3 linked regions of the Homo sapiens genome follow. The protein of the gene in region 3 interacts with the protein of the main gene of each other region in a biochemical or structural test. Each region holds a gene or a part of one and is shown on either strand. Other genes may lie near its edges.

Region 1 (7,047 bases), on a different chromosome or scaffold from region 3:
AGAGCTGAGAAAGAGACGCCTGCACCAGACACATGGCCACACGTGGGTGCTGCTCCTGTGACCTGGGACTCAGGCACATTTTCAGTGAACTCTGAGCTTAAAGCCTCCTAGAAGAAACAATCAGTAGTATAAAACACAGTTCGTGATCTTTGGTTTGAATGTCTGAGGTCAACGGGTTACAGACATCACTTTAAGACTTAACTGACTAGGTGCAGTGGCTAATGCCTGTAATCCTAGCATTTTGGGAGGCCGAGGCAGGCAGATCGCTTGAGCTCAGGAGTTCAAGACCAGCTTGGGCAACATAGCAAAACTGTGTGTCTACAAAAAATACAAAAATTAGCTGGGCATGGTGGTGTGTGCCTGTAGTCCCAGCTAGCTGGGATGCTGAGGCAGGAGGAAGGCTTGAACCTGGAAGGTGGAGGCTACAGTGAGCCATAATTGCACTACTGCACTCCAGCCTGAGTGACAAAGCGAGACCCTGTCTCAAAAAAAAAAAAAGACTTAACTATGCATACTTTCCAAACATCCTTTTGAGCTTCTACCAGTCCACCCCATAATTACAAAGAGAAATATCATGTTGAACGGTATCTATCTAGCTGACAACAGGATTTTTGTTCAGGAACTAGAAACAAAGAGCTTTGCTGTTTTGATGACCAATATTTAAATGATAACAAAACCGGAATCTTGAGTTCCTTCCTGGTGTCCTTAGTTCCACTGTCACGTGAGCAGGCCAGTTGTAATTGTCTGCAGAAATGAGGAAGATGAGATCCCAGGAGGATACGTGTTTCCTTCAGTCCCCCAGCCAGGAAGAGGCAAATACTCATCTTGGTTCTTCTGTCTTCCTGTCCCATTTTTTTTACCTCTGTGCCAATGGTTCTCAAATTGGAGCATGAGCCAGAATTCCCCAAAGGGCTGTTAAAGCACAGATTGCTGGGGCCCATCGCCAGAGGCCCTGATTCAGTAGGTCTGGAGTGGGACCCAGTAATCTGCATTTCTAACAAGTTCCCAGGTGATGCTGATGCTGCTGGTCTTGGGATTATGCTTTGAAGACCACTGATACTTCATATCTGGCCTCCTTCATTTTCTGTGAACACTCTGAGTCTTTCTATGAACACTCTGAGACATGGAAAAGTTGGAAGAGCTATACTGGGCTACTATTTCCCTTGTGTTCAAAATAAATCCAGTTTCCTGGCAAATTCATTAAGGAATAAACCCAAAGAAGTCTTTTGTCATTATGCTAACAGAGTTGGAAGGTGTCATGACACTATCCTTCATAATTTAGAGTGAATATTCTACTGTTGAGGAAAAAGTTCAGCAAAGATGACTTGGTAGAAACAGAAGCCATGGAACAGAGCGCAGAGAGCGTGAGCATATTGACCCTGGAGTGAGCTGCTGGTCACCACCCCTTTCCAAAACAAGATGCAGCGTTAAGGCAAAGAAGGCAAAAGCTTCGGGCTTGCGTATTCCTGGGCTTCTCTAGACCGTAACAGACACCCAGATTCAGAAATCCCCTCTGCTCTATTGGGGCATCATTCTACATCCCTCATCCAAATCTGGCTGATGCAAACTGTGCAATTTTTAATGCATTTATTTTTAGCTCTTATGTGAGGAGGGCTTTGGGAGGGGTCATTTCATCAGCCAGATTTTCAACTGTCAGATATTCCCTTAAAGTTTAAAATGCAGCCAATATTCCTCCACTGTGGATGTGTTTCACCAGCAAACGTCCATACCACAAGAGCAAATACCACAAGACGTCCATACCACAAGAGCAAATACCACAAGATACCACAAGAGCAAATACCACAGAAATGTCCATACCACAAGAGCAAATACCACAGTGAGCAAATTCTGTCTCTCCGGGTGCAGCAGTGACACGTGTCACCTGTGACAGTTCATTTGTACACACTTTTGGGACTGGGGCACCAAACCTCAGAAGTGATTGGTGTGGGATTTTATGAACAGTACAGATGAATGAAGAAGTTAATTCTCTGGGGTAAGAGGCTGAAAAAGCTGATACCCAGCTCCCAAATGTTCACCAACCAGAGAGAACATGACAACAGTCAAAGCAATTTGAACGAGGTTGTGCAAAAGAACCAAAAAAATGAAAGCAGAAGCCACTTTGGAGGAGAGCTATAACCCTTGTGAGTGACTCCTCCTGAAGATGTCCCTGTCCCCTGCACTGCCTTCCCTGGCCCCCAAAAATCCATAAGAAAACACACCGCTTCTTGGTCTCTTTTGTCCACCGACTTTCTTATCTTAGAGCCTAGAGTCAGCTCCTTGAGGCCTGTCCTCCAAGGTTTGGCCACCTTGGCTCTGATGGGACTGGACTACGTTGGTAGAACACCTGGGTTTTAGAGTCAGCCAGCCGTATGTTCCAGTTCCAGTTCACAACACCACTAGCTATGACGTTTTGGAGAAGTTTCTTAACTTCTCTGTGCTTCAGTTTTCTCATCTATAAGGTGGGAGTTTGCTTGAGGGATGGATGGATGGATGGATTGGTGGGTGGATAGGAAGACAGACAGATGATAGATTATAGATATTGATGTAGACAGACACAAACACACATAAATATTTATGACTACTGGAGTATTAAAGAATTTGCTAAATGTTGAATAGGGTGCCCTGCTGAACAAGAAACACAGCAAATCTAGTTCCCTCCCTGTATAATTTTTCCAAACTTCTAGATTCTGAGCCTTTGCATGTCTTGCACTTGGAAAACAGCCCTGTGTTGGAGTGGAGTTCAGCAGCACACAAGCAGAGCTCTTCAAAGAATAGCAAAGGGCACCCCAACCTAGCAACGCAGTCCAGTAGACCTGGACTTAGCAGTATTTAATTGCAGATGTTGCACATTCATTCCAAATGTTCCTCTCATCCTTTGTTAGCTCTCAGGCTAACAAAGGTTTATCCTCTATGGACTTTTGGACTTCTGTAGGTAGACAGAAACCTCATTCATTCAGCTACCACTAACTAGACACGTGGGACATCCTAGACAGCTGCTGTGATGAAGTTCACCACTTCTTTGAAGATCAGGTTGATTACTAGTATAAATCAATGACATATATAAGAGGGAGTTTCACTTACTTGAGAGAAGAATTATGTGTAAGCCTTTAAAAGCATTCATTTACACACAACGTGCTAATTACAAATCATTATCTATTAACTAAGACCAATTTCTAGAGAACGTTTCCGTGCTGAACTTTAGTTAAATTAATAGGGAGTCACTGAGTCCACCCAAAAGTGATCAAACAGTATTTCTTTAAGAGTGTTTAATAATTCACACCAGATCTCCTCCCCAATTACTGCACATTAGCAGAGCTTTGTGCATCCCGGTATGCACTTGCTGTAGGGTTAACCTCACCCTATACCTTGGGAGGTTCTGCTCATTTCAGGGGCAGGTGCTTGAAAAGGGACCCCAGGGACTAGAACAGATACAAATGCACCAATGTTTATTGCAACATTATTTACAGCAGCTAAAAGGTAAAAATAACCCAAGCGTCCATCAATGGATGAATGGATAAATAAAATGTGGTCTATGCATACCATGGACTATTTTATTCTTATATATATACAATCATGGGGGTGCAAGTGCAGTTTTGCTACATTGAGGTAAAGTCATGGCCTTCAGTGCATTCATCAGTGGAGCAATGCACATCATACAGTGGAATATTATTCAGCCACAAAAACGGATCAAGGTCTGCCATGTGCAACACCATGGATGGACCATGCAAACTTTATGCTAAGTGAAAGAAGCCAGTCACACAAGGACAAACACTCTCTGCAGTGCCTATATTAGGCAGATTTCTAGAGACAGAAAGTAGAATGGTGCTTGCCATGGGCTGAGAGAGAGGGGATGAGGAATTACATTTAATGGGCACAGAGTTTCTGTTTGGGATGATTTAAAAAGTGGTGGAAACGGATGGTGGTGATGGTTGCACAACACTGTGAATGTTCTTAATGCCACCTAATTAATCTTACACTTCAACATTTCTTAAAGCAAGCTGTTTTATGTTATGTATATTTTGCCATGATAAAGATTATGTAGAATGATAGCACGTGGACCTAGGATCCAATTTTCAAAAGGAAAGCCAATGACAGTTGGCAGTTTTGGAGAAGCAGGGCCACAGTGGTGAATGCCTGGATATACACAGCCTATTCTTTGAAGGAGAGTTGGGTGCCGGGGCAAGAGGCAGGCTGAGTCAAGGGAAACCAAGTAACCCAGTGTGGCTCTTCTTTCCCGTTTAGGTTTCAGCACAGCCAGTCCCACAGGAGCCCAGCAGAAAAGATTACGAGACCTACCAGCCATTTCAGAATTCCACAAGAAATTACGATGAGTCCTTCTTCGAGGACCAGGTCCACCATCGCCCTCCCGCCAGCGAGTACACCATGCACCTGGGTCTCAAGTCCACCGGCAACTACGTTGACTTCTACTCAGCTGCCCGTCCCTACAGTGAACTGAACTATGAAACGAGCCACTACCCGGCCTCCCCCGACTCCTGGGTGTGAGGAGCAGGGCACAGGCGCTCCGGGAACAGTGCATGTGCATGCATACCACAAGACATTTCTTTCTGTTTTGTTTTTTTCTCCTGCAAATTTAGTTTGTTAAAGCCTGTTCCATAGGAAGGCTGTGATAACCAGTAAGGAAATATTAAGAGCTATTTTAGAAAGCTAAATGAATCGCAAGTTAACTTGGAAATCAGTAGAAAGCTAAAGTGATCCTAAATATGACAGTGGGCAGCACCTTTCTAGCGTGAGCTGTAGAGTAACGAGAAGTGCTTTATACTGAACGTGGTTGATGGGAGGAGAGACGAGGCATTCGGGCCGGTGGGGCGTAAGGGTTATCGTTAAGCACAAGACACAGAATAGTTTACACACTGTGTGGGGGACGGCTTCTCACGCTTTGTTTACTCTCTTCATCCGTTGTGACTCTAGGCTTCAGGTTGCATTGGGGTTCCTCTGTACAGCAAGATGTTTCTTGCCTTTTGTTAATGCATTGTTGTAAAGTATTTGATGTACATTACAGATTAAAGAAGAAAAGCGCGTTGTGTATATTACACCAATGCCGCCGTGTTTCCTCATCTATGGTTCTAAATATTGCTTCAATTTCAAACTTTTGAAAGATGTATGGATTTCCAGTTTTTCTTTACTTTCTCCCAGTATGTTTTAACAAAAAAAAAAAAAAGCAGGAAAAAAGGAATATTTAGCAGTATTGTTCGTTCTGATATGTGAATTTGTTTGTGACAACTAAACAAGGCATTCAGCAGTTTCTGACAATTAACATACATCATTCCACACTCCTTGTCAACAAAGTGCTTTTTCACTGCCTAAAATTTTAGATGTAGATATTTGAAATAGATTTTTTCATTTATACCAGTTTTCTTTATGATGATACAGTGTTAAAAGAAAATAAATTACAATTGATCTGTCATCCATATTTGCTAAGAATGTCTATTTCCAAGAACCTATATCTTACAAAATACACATTCTTGCTTGTGTGTCTGTGTGTGTGGGTGTATGTATGTCCACGTACTAGAAAAATTACCTGTGTGAGATTTTATTTTGACAGAAGCTATTTCATTTGCTGTTCATCTTGTACAAACTTTGTTTTTGGTTTTTTAGTATAAATGTACATCAGTTTGTTCCTTTTGTACTGTATCTATTCTTCTGACCATCTAGTGACTCAGGATATTAGGCCAGTTGAAGTGGAGTTATAGGATTTTCACACATTCACGCATACTTGGATATCAACCCTCTCTACAGGTCCGTTTCCTTACACATTTTATCCCCTCAGAACACGATAAACCATGGCCAATTCAGTTTCACTTTGGGGCCAATTACTTGAAGTATCCACAGAAAATGTAAACTGCTCGCCTTATTCCCCCAAACTTTTTGTTCATGTGGCAGGGAGCAGTACACAACTATGGAATAGATTATTAAAACTGAACTTGAAGCTAACGTTAGAATAGTGGTTAACAGAGCTAAGAAATAAGGCTAACCATCGAAAAGAACATGGGCCGCGGGTAAACTAGCTTTGCTCTTTAGATGCAAGTGGCTGAGGCCAATAGGTGCCTAGTAAATGTTAACTGTTCTTGGAAAAAATAAAAACATCAGTAACAAAAGAAATTGGCTGCCATCGTCCTTTAAAACTGGCTTCCCTTCACGCTACATAGTTTAATTCAGCTCCAAGTCTCAAGTAAATGGTTCTTTCTCCAAATTTAACAACAATCAAATGATGATAGTCAATTCACGCATAGTTTTGGAAATGAAAAGTTAACTTTCAGAATAGAGCAGTAGACAGAAATGTATGTGTGAATTATGTACTAGTTGGACATACAGGACTCCACATTTCTGGATTCCCTCACAGGAATGCTTCAGACCCTCTAGAGAGAGAGAAACATGGCACATTGAAGACAGGGTTTCCACTTCATCTGTATCATACAATGCAACAGTAAAGAGAATGTGATATGGACATGACTTCCCTATAACATAAGGGCTGGCTTAACCTTTCCAGAAGAAAGCAATAGGACTCATTCTCTGGTTGGAGTTGTGCCACAGAATTAATGTGCTATGGAATTCCTCCTCCTAGTAGAAACCGTATATTTTCTTTATGATTTTTGAGTCTTAATGCATGCCCTACATTTGCGACTCATGAAGACCAAGGATGTCTTTGCATCCCATAATTCTTTGAGAGCACATTGTGCCAGGCTGTGATTAGCTGACTCAGCTAGGAGCCTCCAGCATCAGAAGGAGAGATAGTGGGAAAAATTTAAAAGTGTTTGTAATTATTCAAGCCAATCCATTTTTCCTTTTTAGGCACATATACAAATAGATTGAGGATAGATATAGACAGAGAGAGAGAGAGAGAGATGACAGATAATACATAGCTATAGATAGATGATAGATGGTGGATGGATAGGTAGATGGAGGTAGGTAAGTCAATAGATGGGGTCTTACTTGAACTATGAAATAGCCTAAAGCCCCCACAGGTTCCCTTGGCAAAGAAGGTTGGTCAGCCAGTGATTTATTGTTTGTAACATGGGATGTATTGGA
Region 2 (7,936 bases), on a different chromosome or scaffold from region 3:
AGACTGCCTGCCCAGGTGTGGGAGGGGGAGAGCCTTCTGCCTCGCCCTCTCCACGCCTCGCTTCTTGAATTGTCACTGGCGCTGGGAGCCTAAAGAGAAACTGGAACCGGGATAAATATAAACTGGAGGCTCTCTCCCCTGGCTCCCCAGGCCCCCCTAAGACCTCCTACTGCCCTGTACACATCATACACTCTGGTGGCCCTGGAAGTGTGTGTGTATGTGCACATGCTCGCATGGTTGCCGGGGCACAGCGGGGACCCAGCAGTGCTCCCTGTGCACACACCCGTGTGAAAGGTGATGTCAGGTGTTTGTATCAGCCGTGCGCTCTGGGGACCTGGGATGAGCTCACCTCCCACAGGCTCCACTCGGGTGCCAGTGAAGCCCTGCCATGCCGGTCTGTGTCTGGATCCATTGTTGCCTGCAAAGACTAAGGCTGGTTTGGGGGGACCCTGAGGACAGGTCGGCAGCCATATTTGGCAGCTGATGTAGGAATCACGTGACTGTATAAATGTCGTAGTGCCCTGCATGCCGGGTGGCAGCAAGACTTCCCAGGCCCCAGCCCCATCTCCGCTCTCTGAGCCTCTGGTTTCTCCGGACCTCCCTGGCCTGGCTCACAGCCCAGCTCCCCTCCTGCCATCCCCACCTGTCCTAGTGGCCTGCTGTGCTCGCATCTCTGGCAGCCTGGATTGGGGTCCTGCTGGAGTGAAGGGTTTCCTGAGGCAGGGAGTACTCATAGCCGTCTGTGCCTCCTGCTCTGCTGGACTCTGATAGAGGCAGTGGGCAGCAGGGCAAAGAAGGAAGCAGCCGCCGAGGAAGCGAAGGTGGGGTGGGGGTGCCCAGCCCTGCGGCCGGAGGTGCCATTGACCCTGAGAGCAAGAGCCATCAGTCTGATGGCTTCCTCTGGCCGGAAGCTGTGGCTGAGATATCCTTCCTTCCTCCCAGCAGCCTGGATTTGCCTCCTCCCAGGCTGGGAAAGGCTAGGGAGGCCCAGGTGGGGCTGTCAGGGCCAAAGGCTGTTTCAAAAGTGTCCTTTATTGCCAATCAGGGGGTTTGGCTGGCATCTGCTTGTGGCATGGGGTGCTGGCTCTCGTGGAGCAAGACTGAGGGCTGTCGAGCCCCAGGGGTCCTGCCCATCAGCAGCCATGCTTACCCCTGCAGAGCTGGCCACGGTAGTACGGCGGTTCTCCCAGACCGGCATCCAGGACTTCCTGACACTGACGCTGACGGAGCCCACTGGGCTTCTGTACGTGGGCGCCCGAGAGGCCCTGTTTGCCTTCAGCATGGAGGCCCTGGAGCTGCAAGGAGCGGTGAGAGGTGGGGCAGTGGGAGGCAGTCGGGCCTGCCAGAGGGCAAGGCCCAGAGGGGCTGTGCTTGGCTAGGTGGTCCCTCAGCCTGGCTGCCCCCACAGAAGTGCTGCTGGGCATCCGGGGCCTGCCCTCTGGTTGGGGTCAGCATGCGGCATTCCTCTCCTCTCTGGCACTTACTGAATTCTGTGTAGTGGGGTGGTTTGGGGCTTCCATTCTGTACTAAAGGAAGTCCCCAGAGAATAGGGACCATGCCTCTGCACTGGGCGTCCCTGTGTTGCTGCTGCAGGCTGTGCTTGTGACACGTGCTCAGTCCGTACCTGTAACGTGGCTGACATCCCCTTCCCTTTCCCCAGATCTCCTGGGAGGCCCCCGTGGAGAAGAAGACTGAGTGTATCCAGAAAGGGAAGAACAACCAGGTGGGTGCTTGGACGCTGCTCCTGGTGCTGCCTTCACCCCAGGACGTCTCCTCCCATTCTGGCCCTCGCGCTCTCACTAACCGGACACCTTTCTGCCCCCAGACCGAGTGCTTCAACTTCATCCGCTTCCTGCAGCCCTACAATGCCTCCCACCTGTACGTCTGTGGCACCTACGCCTTCCAGCCCAAGTGCACCTACGTCGTGAGTGCTGCCCTCCTACCTCGGTGTCCCCAGCCCCCCGCCCTCCTCACCCTTCTCTGGACTCGTGGATGTGGCCCACAGAGCCCTGCCCTTAAGCATCTCCTCATCACCTCTCTCTCTGTCCTTAGAACATGCTCACCTTCACTTTGGAGCATGGAGAGTTTGAAGATGGGAAGGGCAAGTGTCCCTATGACCCAGCTAAGGGCCATGCTGGCCTTCTTGTGGGTGAGTGGCTGCCCCCCATGCAGGCTGGGTGAGTCCTTGGGGCTTGGTTCCACTTGGGTCTGTGTTGGCCGGATGTGTCCATACCTCATGTGTGGCCTAGCTGACCTCTGTCTCCCATAGATGGTGAGCTGTACTCGGCCACACTCAACAACTTCCTGGGCACGGAACCCATTATCCTGCGTAACATGGGGCCCCACCACTCCATGAAGACAGAGTACCTGGCCTTTTGGCTCAACGGTGAGCCACCGGGGGGCCTGTGGGAGCCATGGGTGGGAGGTCCCCCGGGGCCCAGCCCCTCCCTGCTGACCTCCTCCCCTTCCCACAGAACCTCACTTTGTAGGCTCTGCCTATGTACCTGAGAGTGTGGGCAGCTTCACGGGGGACGACGACAAGGTCTACTTCTTCTTCAGGGAGCGGGCAGTGGAGTCCGACTGCTATGCCGAGCAGGTGGTGGCTCGTGTGGCCCGTGTCTGCAAGGTACCGAGTCTCACAGCGGTGGGCCCTGGGAGCCCTGCTGGCCCAGCGGGGCTGACCGGCAGTGTCCCCTTGCCGTCTGCCAGGGCGATATGGGGGGCGCACGGACCCTGCAGAGGAAGTGGACCACGTTCCTGAAGGCGCGGCTGGCATGCTCTGCCCCGAACTGGCAGCTCTACTTCAACCAGCTGCAGGCGATGCACACCCTGCAGGACACCTCCTGGCACAACACCACCTTCTTTGGGGTTTTTCAAGCACAGTGGTGAGTTGGCCAGGGCTCCCACAGAGTGGGGAGGAGCTGGGGTTCAGGTCAGGGACGGTGCATGGGTGGGAGCCTGGACCAGGCCTCAGAGGCAGTCCCGGAAGCCAGGTGTCCAGAAGCCAAGGAGAATGCTGGCACCTGCCCCTTTCAGAGCTGCCTGTGAAGGGGCAGGGCCCCATGCCAGGTGGCACTTGAGCTGCCAGGGCATTCTGGTACCCATGGCCAGTTTGTGCCAGGCCCTGCCTTCCTGCTGCTTGCCCTTAGCTGGGGTGGGAAGAGATAAGGTGGGTACCTGACCCTGGGCTCCCTCTCGCTGTGACAGGGGTGACATGTACCTGTCGGCCATCTGTGAGTACCAGTTGGAAGAGATCCAGCGGGTGTTTGAGGGCCCCTATAAGGAGTACCATGAGGAAGCCCAGAAGTGGGACCGCTACACTGACCCTGTACCCAGCCCTCGGCCTGGCTCGGTGAGTGCTAGGGCAGGGATGCATCTCCCCACCCAGCTGCGGTGCCATCCCACCCTGCTGATGGCCTGCCCCCCACACCCTGCCCCCAGTGCATTAACAACTGGCATCGGCGCCACGGCTACACCAGCTCCCTGGAGCTACCCGACAACATCCTCAACTTCGTCAAGAAGCACCCGCTGATGGAGGAGCAGGTGGGGCCTCGGTGGAGCCGCCCCCTGCTCGTGAAGAAGGGCACCAACTTCACCCACCTGGTGGCCGACCGGGTTACAGGACTTGATGGAGCCACCTATACAGTGCTGTTCATTGGCACAGGTGGGTGCATGGGTATGCAGGCATGGCTGCTCAAGGCTGGGCAGAAGCCCGTGTGCCCAGGGCAGGGAGATTTGGAGCTGCCCCACGGCCTTGTGCCCTCTCATTTACACCTTCTCCTCTGCACCCCCCAGGAGACGGCTGGCTGCTCAAGGCTGTGAGCCTGGGGCCCTGGGTTCACCTGATTGAGGAGCTGCAGCTGTTTGACCAGGAGCCCATGAGAAGCCTGGTGCTATCTCAGAGCAAGGTAGTAAGTTGGGCCCTATCTGCCACTGTCCCCAGCACTATCCCATCTCACTCTCTCCATCTGGCTGCTTCTCCCAGTTGGGCCTATGTGCTTGGCCAGTGCAGAGTTAGGAACACACACACATGTGGATGCACACCTTGCCTAACTTGGGGTGGGTTCCTGGAAACGAGAATGAAAACAGAATGGAATCTGCACTGCACAGGGCCATTATATATAGCCAGGTCACGGGGCTGCGCTCCCAGCATCAAGCCTTGGCAACTGCTCCCATGTTTCTTTCAGACCCTCCAAGCTGTGCTGTGGTTCTGGCTCTGGCCTCTTCCCTGACCATGCCCCTGTGACCAGACCTCCCAGGCTGTGAGATGTTTATGATGCCCTCACCATGGTGGTTTTCCTTCCAGCCCCCATTTCCGTGACTGTTTCCCTGAAGTGCTTGCATTATACCCTTGTGCAATACTCTTTTTGGTTTTTTTTTGAGATGGAGTCTCACTCTGTCACCCAGGCTAGAGTGCAGTGACGCGATCTCAGCTCACTGCAACCTCCACCTCCCAGGTTGAAGCTATTCTTATGCCTCAGCCTCCTGAGTAGCTGGGATTACAGGTGCCTGCCACTATGCCCAGCTAAAGGTTTTTTGTTTTTGTTTTTGTTTTCTTTGAGATGGAGTCTCACTCTGTCGCCCAGGCTGGAGTGCGGTGGCATGATCTCTGCTCACTGCAACCTCCACCTCCCGGGTTCAAGCAATTCTGCCTCGGCCTCCCAAGTAACTGGGACTACAGGCACGTGCCACCATGCCCAGCTAATTTTTTTTTTTTTTTTTTTTTTTGAGATGGAGTCTCGCTCTGTCACCCAGGCTGGAGTGCAGTGGCGCAATCTCGGCTCACTGCAAGCTCTGCCTCCCAGGTTCACACCATTCTCCTGCCTCAGCCTTCCATGTAGCTGGGACTACAGGCTCCCATCACCACGCCTGGCTAATTTTTTGTATTTTTAGTAGAGACGGGGTTTCACCGTGTTAGCCAGGATGGTCTCGATCTCCTGACCTTGCGATCCGCCCGACTCAGCCTCCCAAAGTGCTGGGATTACAGGCGTGAGCCACTGCGCCTGGCCAGCCGGCTAATTTTTGTATTTTTAGTAGAGACAAGGTTTTACCATGTTGGCCAGGCTGGTCTTGAACTCCTAACCTCAAGTGATTTGCCCACCTCAGCCTCCCAAAGTGCTGGGATTCCAGGCATGACCTGCTGTTCCTAGTTGCCTTGTGCAATACTCTTGTGGCATGTTTGCTACACCTCCTGAACTTTGATTTGTTTGCCTTTTACCAGCTATTATGACTCAAAATTGTCCCCTAGAACATGGAATAATGGCAGAAAGAAAGTGTGTGGTTGAATAAACACACAGATTGGCATCCACCGTTGAAACAGGAAAACATCTTATGTTATGCTGCTGCTGTTGTGAGGGCTGATGGGCCTTGAAATGTATTTCCTGCACTATGTGTGTGTGAGTGTGTGTGATTATACTTTTTGGCCTCACAGCCCCATCATCCCTTTCTAATAACGTCACGTCGATAAGGGGCTTAGGATTGCATCTGGCCTGTGTAAGCCCTCTGAGTTCTGCGGTTCTTAGAGTTCCCTTTTCAGCACTATAGCTCTGCCTTGTTCCCTTGTTCCTCCTTCTGGCGCCCCGTGCTGTGCCCCCTGCAGGAGTCCAAGCTGTCCCCATGCTGCGTTCTGGTCCGGCCGCCCCTCCCGTGGTGTGGCCCTGGCCGACCCCCCTCCTGCGCCCCGCTTTTCTCGCAGAAGCTGCTCTTTGCCGGCTCCCGCTCTCAGCTGGTGCAGCTGCCCGTGGCCGACTGCATGAAGTATCGCTCCTGTGCAGACTGTGTCCTCGCCCGGGACCCCTATTGCGCCTGGAGCGTCAACACCAGCCGCTGTGTGGCCGTGGGTGGCCACTCTGGGTGAGTTGGGCTCTACATAGGCCAGGACCTCCAGGGACTCAGGGTGGTTGGAGCCAGGCTGCTGATGTACCCTACATCCCCTACCAGATCTCTACTGATCCAGCATGTGATGACCTCGGACACTTCAGGCATCTGCAACCTCCGTGGCAGTAAGAAAGGTGAGCTTTTTCATTCCCGTCGCATCGGGCTGAGCCCTGGACCAGAGCTGGAGTTTCTGTTCTCCTCTTCCCCAGCCCTGCTTTCCTGCACTAACATGCACTCTGTTTTCTCTGCCACTACAGTCAGGCCCACTCCCAAAAACATCACGGTGGTGGCGGGCACAGACCTGGTGCTGCCCTGCCACCTCTCCTCCAACTTGGCCCATGCCCGCTGGACCTTTGGGGGCCGGGACCTGCCTGCGGAACAGCCCGGGTCCTTCCTCTACGATGCCCGGCTCCAGGCCCTGGTTGTGATGGCTGCCCAGCCCCGCCATGCCGGGGCCTACCACTGCTTTTCAGAGGAGCAGGGGGCGCGGCTGGCTGCTGAAGGCTACCTTGTGGCTGTCGTGGCAGGCCCGTCGGTGACCTTGGAGGCCCGGGCCCCCCTGGAAAACCTGGGGCTGGTGTGGCTGGCGGTGGTGGCCCTGGGGGCTGTGTGCCTGGTGCTGCTGCTGCTGGTGCTGTCATTGCGCCGGCGGCTGCGGGAAGAGCTGGAGAAAGGGGCCAAGGCTACTGAGAGGACCTTGGTGTACCCCCTGGAGCTGCCCAAGGAGCCCACCAGTCCCCCCTTCCGGCCCTGTCCTGAACCAGATGAGAAACTTTGGGATCCTGTCGGTTACTACTATTCAGATGGCTCCCTTAAGATAGTACCTGGGCATGCCCGGTGCCAGCCCGGTGGGGGGCCCCCTTCGCCACCTCCAGGCATCCCAGGCCAGCCTCTGCCTTCTCCAACTCGGCTTCACCTGGGGGGTGGGCGGAACTCAAATGCCAATGGTTACGTGCGCTTACAACTAGGAGGGGAGGACCGGGGAGGGCTCGGGCACCCCCTGCCTGAGCTCGCGGATGAACTGAGACGCAAACTGCAGCAACGCCAGCCACTGCCCGACTCCAACCCCGAGGAGTCATCAGTATGAGGGGAACCCCCACCGCGTCGGCGGGAAGCGTGGGAGGTGTAGCTCCTACTTTTGCACAGGCACCAGCTACCTCAGGGACATGGCACGGGCACCTGCTCTGTCTGGGACAGATACTGCCCAGCACCCACCCGGCCATGAGGACCTGCTCTGCTCAGCACGGGCACTGCCACTTGGTGTGGCTCACCAGGGCACCAGCCTCGCAGAAGGCATCTTCCTCCTCTCTGTGAATCACAGACACGCGGGACCCCAGCCGCCAAAACTTTTCAAGGCAGAAGTTTCAAGATGTGTGTTTGTCTGTATTTGCACATGTGTTTGTGTGTGTGTGTATGTGTGTGTGCACGCGCGTGCGCGCTTGTGGCATAGCCTTCCTGTTTCTGTCAAGTCTTCCCTTGGCCTGGGTCCTCCTGGTGAGTCATTGGAGCTATGAAGGGGAAGGGGTCGTATCACTTTGTCTCTCCTACCCCCACTGCCCCGAGTGTCGGGCAGCGATGTACATATGGAGGTGGGGTGGACAGGGTGCTGTGCCCCTTCAGAGGGAGTGCAGGGCTTGGGGTGGGCCTAGTCCTGCTCCTAGGGCTGTGAATGTTTTCAGGGTGGGGGGAGGGAGATGGAGCCTCCTGTGTGTTTGGGGGGAAGGGTGGGTGGGGCCTCCCACTTGGCCCCGGGGTTCAGTGGTATTTTATACTTGCCTTCTTCCTGTACAGGGCTGGGAAAGGCTGTGTGAGGGGAGAGAAGGGAGAGGGTGGGCCTGCTGTGGACAATGGCATACTCTCTTCCAGCCCTAGGAGGAGGGCTCCTAACAGTGTAACTTATTGTGTCCCCGCGTATTTATTTGTTGTAAATATTTGAGTATTTTTATATTGACAAATAAAATGGAGAAAATGAAACGATTGCTCTGATGGGGCTAAGATGTTTGGGCTAAAGCCTTTCTGGGTACCAAGAGGGAAGGCTCTCTGGGTGGAGGGAGGCTGG
Region 3 (7,936 bases):
ATGCCCACCAGAAGGCCAGTGTCCCAGGATGTGAGGAGTAGGAGTTGGGGGATGGGATTGGGACCTGGGGATTGATGAGAGGTGCTGAGGCCCTGGCGGGAGAGGGGGCTGTTGGGAGAGTGGAGAGAGGGGAGCCAATGGGCTAGAGGAGAGGGAGGGGGAGGAGCTGGTCAGGCCCCAGGGCCTTCCGCACTGCACTGGCTGGGGGAAGAGGCGGCGGCCAGGGCGGCCAGCCTGGAGCCTGAGGCACCGGGCTGGCCCCAGTGACACCTCCGTCCCCATCCCCAGAAATACCGCTACCAAGATGAAGACACGCCCCCTCTGGAGCACAGCCCGGCCCACCTCCCCAACCAGGTAAACGCCCCCGAGCTGGTGCACGTGGCGGAGAGGAACTTGTCCCACCTCGAGGCTGGCCACGGGGTCGTGGGCCACGCCCACCTCTCCCCCTTCAAGGTAGGAGACCCTGGTGGCCCCCTCCCCAGTGCGGCCCTCGGAGCCTCGGAGCTGCAGCAATCCCTAAGGGCCGGTAGGGTGAGAGAGAGCCGTGGGGAGGGGGATGCTGGGACTGGGGGCGGGGGTTTGGGGCTTGGGCTCCTGGGGTCTGGGGGAGGGGGCGTTTGTGGGGCTGGAAACACCTTGGTCCCACAGAGGAGAAACAGGCCAGGCCAATGGGAGTGGATGTAAAGCCTAAAGCAAGAATGTGTGTGTGCGCGCGTGCCTGTGCGCGTGTGCTGTGTGTGTGCCTGTGCGTGTGTGCATGCATGCGTGCCTGTGTGTGTGCTGTGTGTGTGTGTGCGTGCGTGCGCCGTTTGTGTGCCTGTGCGTGTGCTGTATGCGTGTGTGTTGAGGTGTGTGCATCCCCCAAGAGGCCCCCACGCCTGGGACCTCTTCATTCCTTCACACCCCCAACCTCCATTTCCATTTTCTGTGTCCAGAGCTCTGTTCCAAGCGCCTGCTGCCCTCATTTGCTCTTGTCCCTTCCCCGCCTCCTCCCCCTACCTCCGCCTCTGGGCCTGGCTCGCCCTGTCCCCAAGTCTCCAGCTCTTTCCATCTGTCTGGCCTGAGACTTCACATGGTGGGGCCTTGCTGCCTCGTCCCCTGCCCCAGCTTTGCTCCACTCCTGAGTTCTCTTCCCCCTCTGCAGCCTTTCCTCCCTGCTGGCTGGCTGGCTGGCTGGCTCTTGATGCTGTCTCTCTCTTCCTCCCACGCATTCTCCTCTCCCTCTCCCTGATCCCCAGCCCAGGCCGCTGGGGCCTGATCAGTCCTTTCCCTCATCAGTCCTCTCCCTCCATCAGCCAGCTCCCCTTTCCCATGTTCCCTCTTGCCTATTCATCTTCACCTTCCCTCTTTTCCTCCTCCCCTCTCTCATCCTCTTGGGTTCTCACCTCTGCCATATCTTCTTTCTATCCCCCTCTGCCCCCTCCATCATCCCCCACCACCTGTTTCCCTTTCTCCTCTCTGCTCACAGCGTCCTCCTCTCTCCAGTCCCGGGAGGCCTGGTTTCTGGGACCTTCCATTCTCCAGTCCACTTTCCATCTTCCCCTTCCTCCATCTCCTCTTCTGGGGACACAGGATGGGGAGGACTGGAGAGCACCAGGCAAGCTGTGAGATTGAGGGGACACTGTGGGGTCAGGGTGGGGATTCTAGGATGTTGTGGGATGCTCTGGGAAGGGGGAGGTTGCTGACATTTCACCAAGAAGATGGGGAGGAGGTCTCTGAGCCTAGGGAGCGGGCAAGCAGGTTCTGGAGTTAGAACTGGCAAGAGAGGAGTTGGGGGATAGGAAGGGTAAGAGGTCCTGGGTCAGGGGCCAGATAGGGATAAGACTGTGAGATCAGGGCAGTGAATGAGGCTGACAGAGCAAGGAAAGGAAGGCCCTGGAGACAGGGATGGTACAGAGTGTTTGTGCGAATTCTGTGGATGCTAGGAGTGAGGGAAAGAAGACTAGAGATGCTTTGTGCAAGGCAGGGCCATTAAATCCCTGAGCAGGGGGAAGAGGAGGTAGGGAGCCTGAGGGGTGGTAGTTAGTACAGAGCTGCTGCTGATCAGAGCTCAGGAGCAGAAGGGGGTGGAGGGAGAGAGTGTTGGAGGCCATAAGCATGGGGTGGAGGTCTCAGGACAAGGCCTCACCTGGGGAACAGGAGAAGCCCCAATTTTCAGAAGAGAGGGGAGTTGATTGAGAAGTGTAAGATTGTTACTTGAGAATAATCTTGAGGGTATGAAGGTAGGGTAAGGGAGAATGGTGATAAACTCTCTGGGGAATCAGAAATTGAGATGGAGTAGCTGGGTGGGGTGGCATGTGCCTGTAGCTACTCAGGAGGCTGAGGTGGGAGGACTGCTTGAGCCCAGGAGTTCAAGGCCGCAGTGAGCTATGATCACACCACTGCACTCCAGCCTGGGTGACACAGCGAGACCTTGTCTCTGGAAAAAAAGAAATTGGGATGGAGGATGAGGCCACATTGGTAAGGGATGGGGCTGGAGGGTGCGACAGGGCCAGGGAAGCGGATGGAGAATGGAGGCTGGGGTTGGAAGATGGATGTTGAAGGGCGAGACAGGGATGGAGATGGAGCATGTGGGATGCGGGCAGAGATAGGGATGGGAAGCAAATGAATGTCGTAGTGGATGAAGGTGGGTGTGCTGGGAAGGAGGTTCCAGGATAGGGATGGGGATGGGGATTGAGGATGGGCTATGGGATGGAGGACGGGCTATGGGATGGAGGACGGGCTGCGGGATGGGGGACGGGCTGCGGGATGGGGGACGGGCTGCGGGATGGGGGACGGGCTGCGGGATGGGGGACGGGCTGTGGGATGGGGGACGGGCTGTGGGATGGGGGATGAACACGTGGATGAGATTTTGGCAGTCAGTGACTGTTGGTTGGACAACAGCATTTGCTGATATGTGAAGGGTTGGAGGGTGGTGTTAATAGATTTATGGGTGTGAAATCTGTGATACAGCTTGAAAATGGTCGGTAGTTTGTAGGCTTGAGAAATAGCAGTAGGAGAGGGGAGGGACCCCTTTGGACGGGGAGAGCGGGAAGGAGACTGGGGAATCCTTGCGCTTGGGCGACTGCAAATACATGTTTCTTTAAGGAGGAAGTAGGTTGGGGACCCCGGAAGGAGGCTCTTGGCGGCCTCCCCCCATTGCCATAGAGACGTGGCTTCGGTTGCCCTGGCAATTGGGGAAGCCCCTAGGACCGGGCTAAAGCGGGCCCCGCCTGGGAGTCTAGAGACCAGGCGATTGACGTCAGGGACCTGGGCACGCCCCACTTTAACCCTTTCCCGAATGAAGTGGGGGGAGGGAGTAGATGAGCGGGATAGGACCCGGATGTCTTTCACCACTCCCAGTTCCTGACGTCCTTTGCACTGCGTAGGGTGAGGGGCGTAGGGGAGCGAGGAAGGCAGGTTATTCAGGATGCGCTGCGCCCACAAACCTCTTCAGCCCGGCCTCCTCTCGGCCTGGCTAACGTGGGGCGGGGCCCAGGGCAGGAGAGGCGGGGCTAGCGGATCCCTTCTGCGCTCAGGAGTTTGGTCGGCCCCAGGCCACGCCCCACCCCCCTGTTGTCCTGACGACAGGGCCTCCTGGAGGTGGGTCTCCCCGGGTCTTGACTGGTCCTAGATACCGTTGCTAGGCAACACGGTCCTTAGAGGAAGGGGTGGATTGGACGGCTGGTTGGTGAGACCGAGGGAGGGGCCTGCAGCTGGGGAACCCCGGATTCCCGGGGTGCAGGGTTTAGGGCAAATGTCTGTGAAAGTGAGGGGCAAGTCTAGGGGAGGGTTATGAAAATATCTGGGTAGATATGGGGGGTTGGGGGGATGGGGCAGGAAATGGGGACCAGGACCCGGTGGACATGATCCCTGGGGTGTCCATGTGTAGCACATAAGGCATGTAACACCCTGTGGTGTTACATCCGGTGAGAAGCTCCCTTCCCCCAAGCCTACCCCCCTCTCCCCACTCTTTGCCATCTGCTGCTCCCCTCTCCGTCTGGCTGTCTCCCTTCCCGCTTCTCCTACACCTCCTTCCACATGCAGGGGGCCCCGGGCTGGGCAGAGTTAGATCCTTGCGCGTGTGCATCTGTGCGTGTGTGTGCGCGTGCGCATGTGCACGCGTGTGCGTGTGTGTGATGTGGATTGAGGCTGGGCCCTTGAGCAGCTCTCAGGGTGGCGGAGTGGGCTTGGCTAAGAGGCTGAAAGGGTAGCCACGCTGATGGGACCCTCCGTTATGGGCTCCCTCTCGAGTCAAGGCTCAGGCTGCTTTTTGTCTCTTGTTTTCCCAAACAGGCCAATTCTCCCCCAGTGATTGTCAACACAGATACCCTAGAAGCCCCAGGATATGTGAGTTGTTTAGATTTTGGGGCTGGGGCCATTGCAGAAGGAAGGAGGGAGTAAGGGAGGGCAGCAGATGACGGGCAGGTGGTCAGACAGGAATGTCTGTCTCACTGCTTTTGTGTTTCTGTCCCGTGCTGGAGTTGCAGGTGAACGGGACCGAGGGGGAGATGGAATACGAGGAAATCACATTGGAAAGGGTGAGCAGGCTCCTCCATCGGCAGTCCCCGTGGCCTCCCGTCTGTACCTTTCTTTCTGCCATGTGGTCTGGGTGGCTAGCCCCTCACCCTGTGCCTTCCTCCTCTGGCTGCTCCAAGCCATTTCCCACCCCACTTGCCTTGCCAGACTTGGGCAGTGAGGGGAGCTGACCCTCTTCCCCTCCTTCACCCAGGGTAACTCAGGTCTGGGCTTCAGCATCGCAGGTGGCACTGACAACCCACACATCGGTGACGACCCATCCATTTTCATCACCAAGATCATTCCTGGTGGGGCTGCGGCCCAGGATGGCCGCCTCAGGTGGGGAGAGGAGACAGGGGTTAGGTTGCTTGGTCCCTGGAGAGGGAGGGCCAGGGCAGCAGGAAGCTCTTGGCTCAGGCCCACCTTGCTGCTCCCAGGGTCAACGACAGCATCCTGTTTGTAAATGAAGTGGACGTGCGCGAGGTGACCCACTCAGCGGCGGTGGAAGCCCTCAAAGAGGCAGGCTCCATCGTTCGCCTCTATGTCATGCGCCGGAAGCCCCCGGCTGAGAAGGTCATGGAGATCAAGCTCATCAAGGGGCCTAAAGGTAGTAACTCATTTTGTTCCCACCCCCATCCCAACTGTCCTGTGCCCCCAAGCCTGCTTCCTGGGCACCCACCTCTGGCCTCCCCTCCATCCAGGTCTTGGCTTCAGCATCGCAGGGGGCGTAGGGAACCAGCACATCCCAGGAGATAATAGCATCTATGTAACAAAGATCATCGAAGGGGGTGCTGCCCACAAGGATGGGAGGTTGCAGATTGGAGACAAGATCCTGGCGGTGAGGACTCCATCTAGCCCATTTTCTAGCCCAGATTTGGGTCTCACCTACTAGCCCTGGCAGGCCCAAGTTCATCACTTCACCCCAGTGCTTCTGTCTTGGGCCATTTGTGGCTTTGTCTGAGCTTTGCTTTCCTTGACTCCAGGTCAACAGTGTGGGGCTAGAGGACGTCATGCATGAAGATGCTGTGGCAGCCCTGAAGAACACGTATGATGTTGTCTACCTAAAGGTGGCCAAGCCCAGCAATGCCTACCTGAGTGACAGCTATGCTCCCCCAGACATCACAACCTGTGAGAGCCCTTCAAACACCAAAGTTCCCCATGACCCATCCCGTTTAACCCATGACATGCAGTCCCACGACATCCCTGTAGCTGTCCCTCTTCAGATATTCCCTATGAAATAGCCACAACCTCTGATCCTTGCTGTTGTTGGAGAAGAGATGGAAAATCAATTACCATAAAAGAACTAGAAAAGATCGTCAACGATCTCTCTCCTGGAAGGCACAAAGCCTGGTTGGTTTTATGGCTAATTTTGTGAAATTCTCAAGGAATAGATAATTCTTCTGCTCTTCCAGAGTACAGGAAAAGATAAAAGATTTCACATTTCATTTTATAAGGCCAGTTCGAATGGTCACAAGGATAGTGTAAAATAAGGAGAGTATAGACCCGTTTTGCTTCTGAATAGAGATACAAGAGTTTACAATAATATAGTAGCAAAGCAAACATGGCAGCATGTTAAGGGAATAACATAGGGTTTGTTTCAGAAAACTAAAGATGGCTCAATATTAGGAAATCTCTTAATATGATTCATATATTAAAACGTTACGGGAGGCTAAGTGTGGTGGCTCATGCTTGTAATCCCAGCACTTGGGAGGCCAAAGTGGGAGGATTTGAGACCAGCTAGGGATTTGAGACCAGCCTAGGCAACAAAGCGAGATCCTGTCTCTAAAAAAATTAAAAAAATTAGCACGTGCCTATACTCCTTGCTACTTGGGAGGCTGAGGCTGGAGGATCGCTTGAGCCGAGGAGTTGGAAGCTGCAGTAAGCCAATGATTGCGCCACTGCCCACCAGACTGGGTGACAGAGCGAGAGGAGAAAACGATGTGATTATCTTAAATAGACGTGAAAAAGGCATTTGGTGAAATTCACCATCTCTTTTGGATGAAAGCTTTTAGTAAACTAGGAACACAGAAATTTTCCTTAAGATGGTGAAGACTAGTTATCAGGAACCAGTAACAAACATTTTATAATGATACAATTTTAGCAGTGTGTCCATTAACTTATTTTTTAATTTAATTTTAATTTTTTTCTTGAAATGGAGTTTCGCTCTTCTTGCCCAGGCTGGAGTGCAGTGGTGTGATCTCAGCTGACTGCAACCTCTGCCTCCCAGGTTCAAGTGATTCTGCTGCCCCGGCCTCCCGAGTAGCTGGGATTACAGGTGCCCACCATCACGCCTGGCTAATTTTTGTAGTTTTAGTGGAGACAGGGTTTCACCATGTTGGCCAGGCTGGTCTCGAATGCCTGACCTCAGGTGATCTGCCCTCCTCGGCCTCCCAAAGTGCTGAGATTACAGGCGTGAGCCACCGCGCCCGGCCTCCGTTAACTTACAAAGAGGGCAGGGATGCCTCTTCCCACTGCTATTATTCTTCATTGCTTTAGAGCAGGGTTTCTCAGTGTTACTCCTGACATTTTTGGACCCAATAACTCTTCATTGTGGGGGGTTGTTCTGTGCCTTGTGGGATATTAAGCAGCATCCCTGGCCTCTGTCTATCAGATGACAATGGTACTCCTCCCCCTCAGTCATAACAATTAAAAAATGTTATGACAGAATTGCCCCAGCGAAATTATGGTGGTTGAGAATCACTGCTTTAGAGATTTCAGACAGTGTAACAAGACAAGGAGAATAGTTACATTTGGAAGGGAAAAACAAAAGTTATCTCTATTTGTAAATTATACTACTGTGCATCTAGATCAAAATCTAAGTGAATTAACTGGAAAAATATGCAAAGTTAAGAATGTGGCTATTTGTTGGCTGGGCGAGGTGGCTCATGCCTGTAATCCCAACACTTTGGGAGGCCAAGGCGGGCGGATCACCTGAGGTCAGGAGTTTGAGAACAGCCTGGCCAACATGGAGAAACGCTGTCTCTACTAAAAATACAAAAAAAAATTAGCTGGGTGTGGTGGCGAGCGCCTGTAATACCAGCTAATCCTGAGGCTGAGACAGGAGAATTCCTTGACCCTGGGAGGCGGAGCTTGCAGTGAGCCAAGATCTCACCACTGCACTCCAGCCTGGGCGATAGAGCGAGACTCCATCTCAAAAAAAAAAAAAAAAAAAAACCAAAACAGGCTGGGCGCGCCGGTGGCTCATGCCTGTAATCCCAGCACTTTGGGAGGCCGAGATGGGTGAGTCACCTGAGGTTGGGAGTTCGAGACCAGCCTAACCAACATGGAGAAACCCCATCTCTACTAAAAATACAAAATTAGCCGGGCATGGTGGTGCATGCCTGCAATCCCAGCTACTCAGGAGGCTGAGGCAGGAGAATTGCTTGAACCTGGGAGGCGGAGGTTGCGGCGAGCTGAGATCGCGCCATTGCACTCCAGC

Evidence for each region. Proteins that work in one complex are often made in the same cells at the same time.
Region 1: the proteins of DLG4 (region 3) and CTNND2 interact in a test that uses a peptide from one of them, tested with the Homo sapiens proteins (2 studies listed by IntAct, with this or other methods).
Region 2: the proteins of DLG4 (region 3) and SEMA4C form a complex in vitro, tested with the Homo sapiens proteins (2 studies listed by BioGRID and IntAct, with this or other methods).

Annotation. Positions count from the first base shown.
Region 1 is NC_000005.10:10,970,909-10,977,955, reverse strand, and holds the end of CTNND2 (catenin delta-2), read left to right. Parts: intron 1-4,242; coding exon 4,243-4,503; 3' UTR 4,504-6,120; downstream 6,121-7,047. UniProt on the Homo sapiens protein: Has a critical role in neuronal development, particularly in the formation and/or maintenance of dendritic spines and synapses. Involved in the regulation of Wnt signaling.
Region 2 is NC_000002.12:96,859,654-96,867,589, reverse strand, and holds the end of SEMA4C (semaphorin-4C precursor), read left to right. Parts: intron 1-1,158; coding exon 1,159-1,307; intron 1,308-1,660; coding exon 1,661-1,723; intron 1,724-1,825; coding exon 1,826-1,924; intron 1,925-2,052; coding exon 2,053-2,149; intron 2,150-2,269; coding exon 2,270-2,386; intron 2,387-2,474; coding exon 2,475-2,626; intron 2,627-2,709; coding exon 2,710-2,885; intron 2,886-3,207; coding exon 3,208-3,352; intron 3,353-3,441; coding exon 3,442-3,664; intron 3,665-3,795; coding exon 3,796-3,908; intron 3,909-4,187; coding exon of another isoform or gene 4,188-4,232; exon of another isoform or gene 4,233-5,325; intron 5,326-5,695; coding exon 5,696-5,853; intron 5,854-5,940; coding exon 5,941-6,011; intron 6,012-6,134; coding exon 6,135-6,964; 3' UTR 6,965-7,872; downstream 7,873-7,936.
Region 3 is NC_000017.11:7,200,592-7,208,527, reverse strand, and holds part of DLG4 (disks large homolog 4), read left to right. Parts: intron 1-288; coding exon 289-354; intron 355-1,256; exon of another isoform or gene 1,257-1,573; coding exon of another isoform or gene 1,574-1,597; intron 1,598-3,340; exon of another isoform or gene 3,341-3,582; intron 3,583-4,275; coding exon 4,276-4,329; intron 4,330-4,460; coding exon 4,461-4,520; intron 4,521-4,711; coding exon 4,712-4,836; intron 4,837-4,934; coding exon 4,935-5,104; intron 5,105-5,198; coding exon 5,199-5,335; intron 5,336-5,480; coding exon 5,481-5,625; intron 5,626-7,936. UniProt on the Homo sapiens protein: Postsynaptic scaffolding protein that plays a critical role in synaptogenesis and synaptic plasticity by providing a platform for the postsynaptic clustering of crucial synaptic proteins.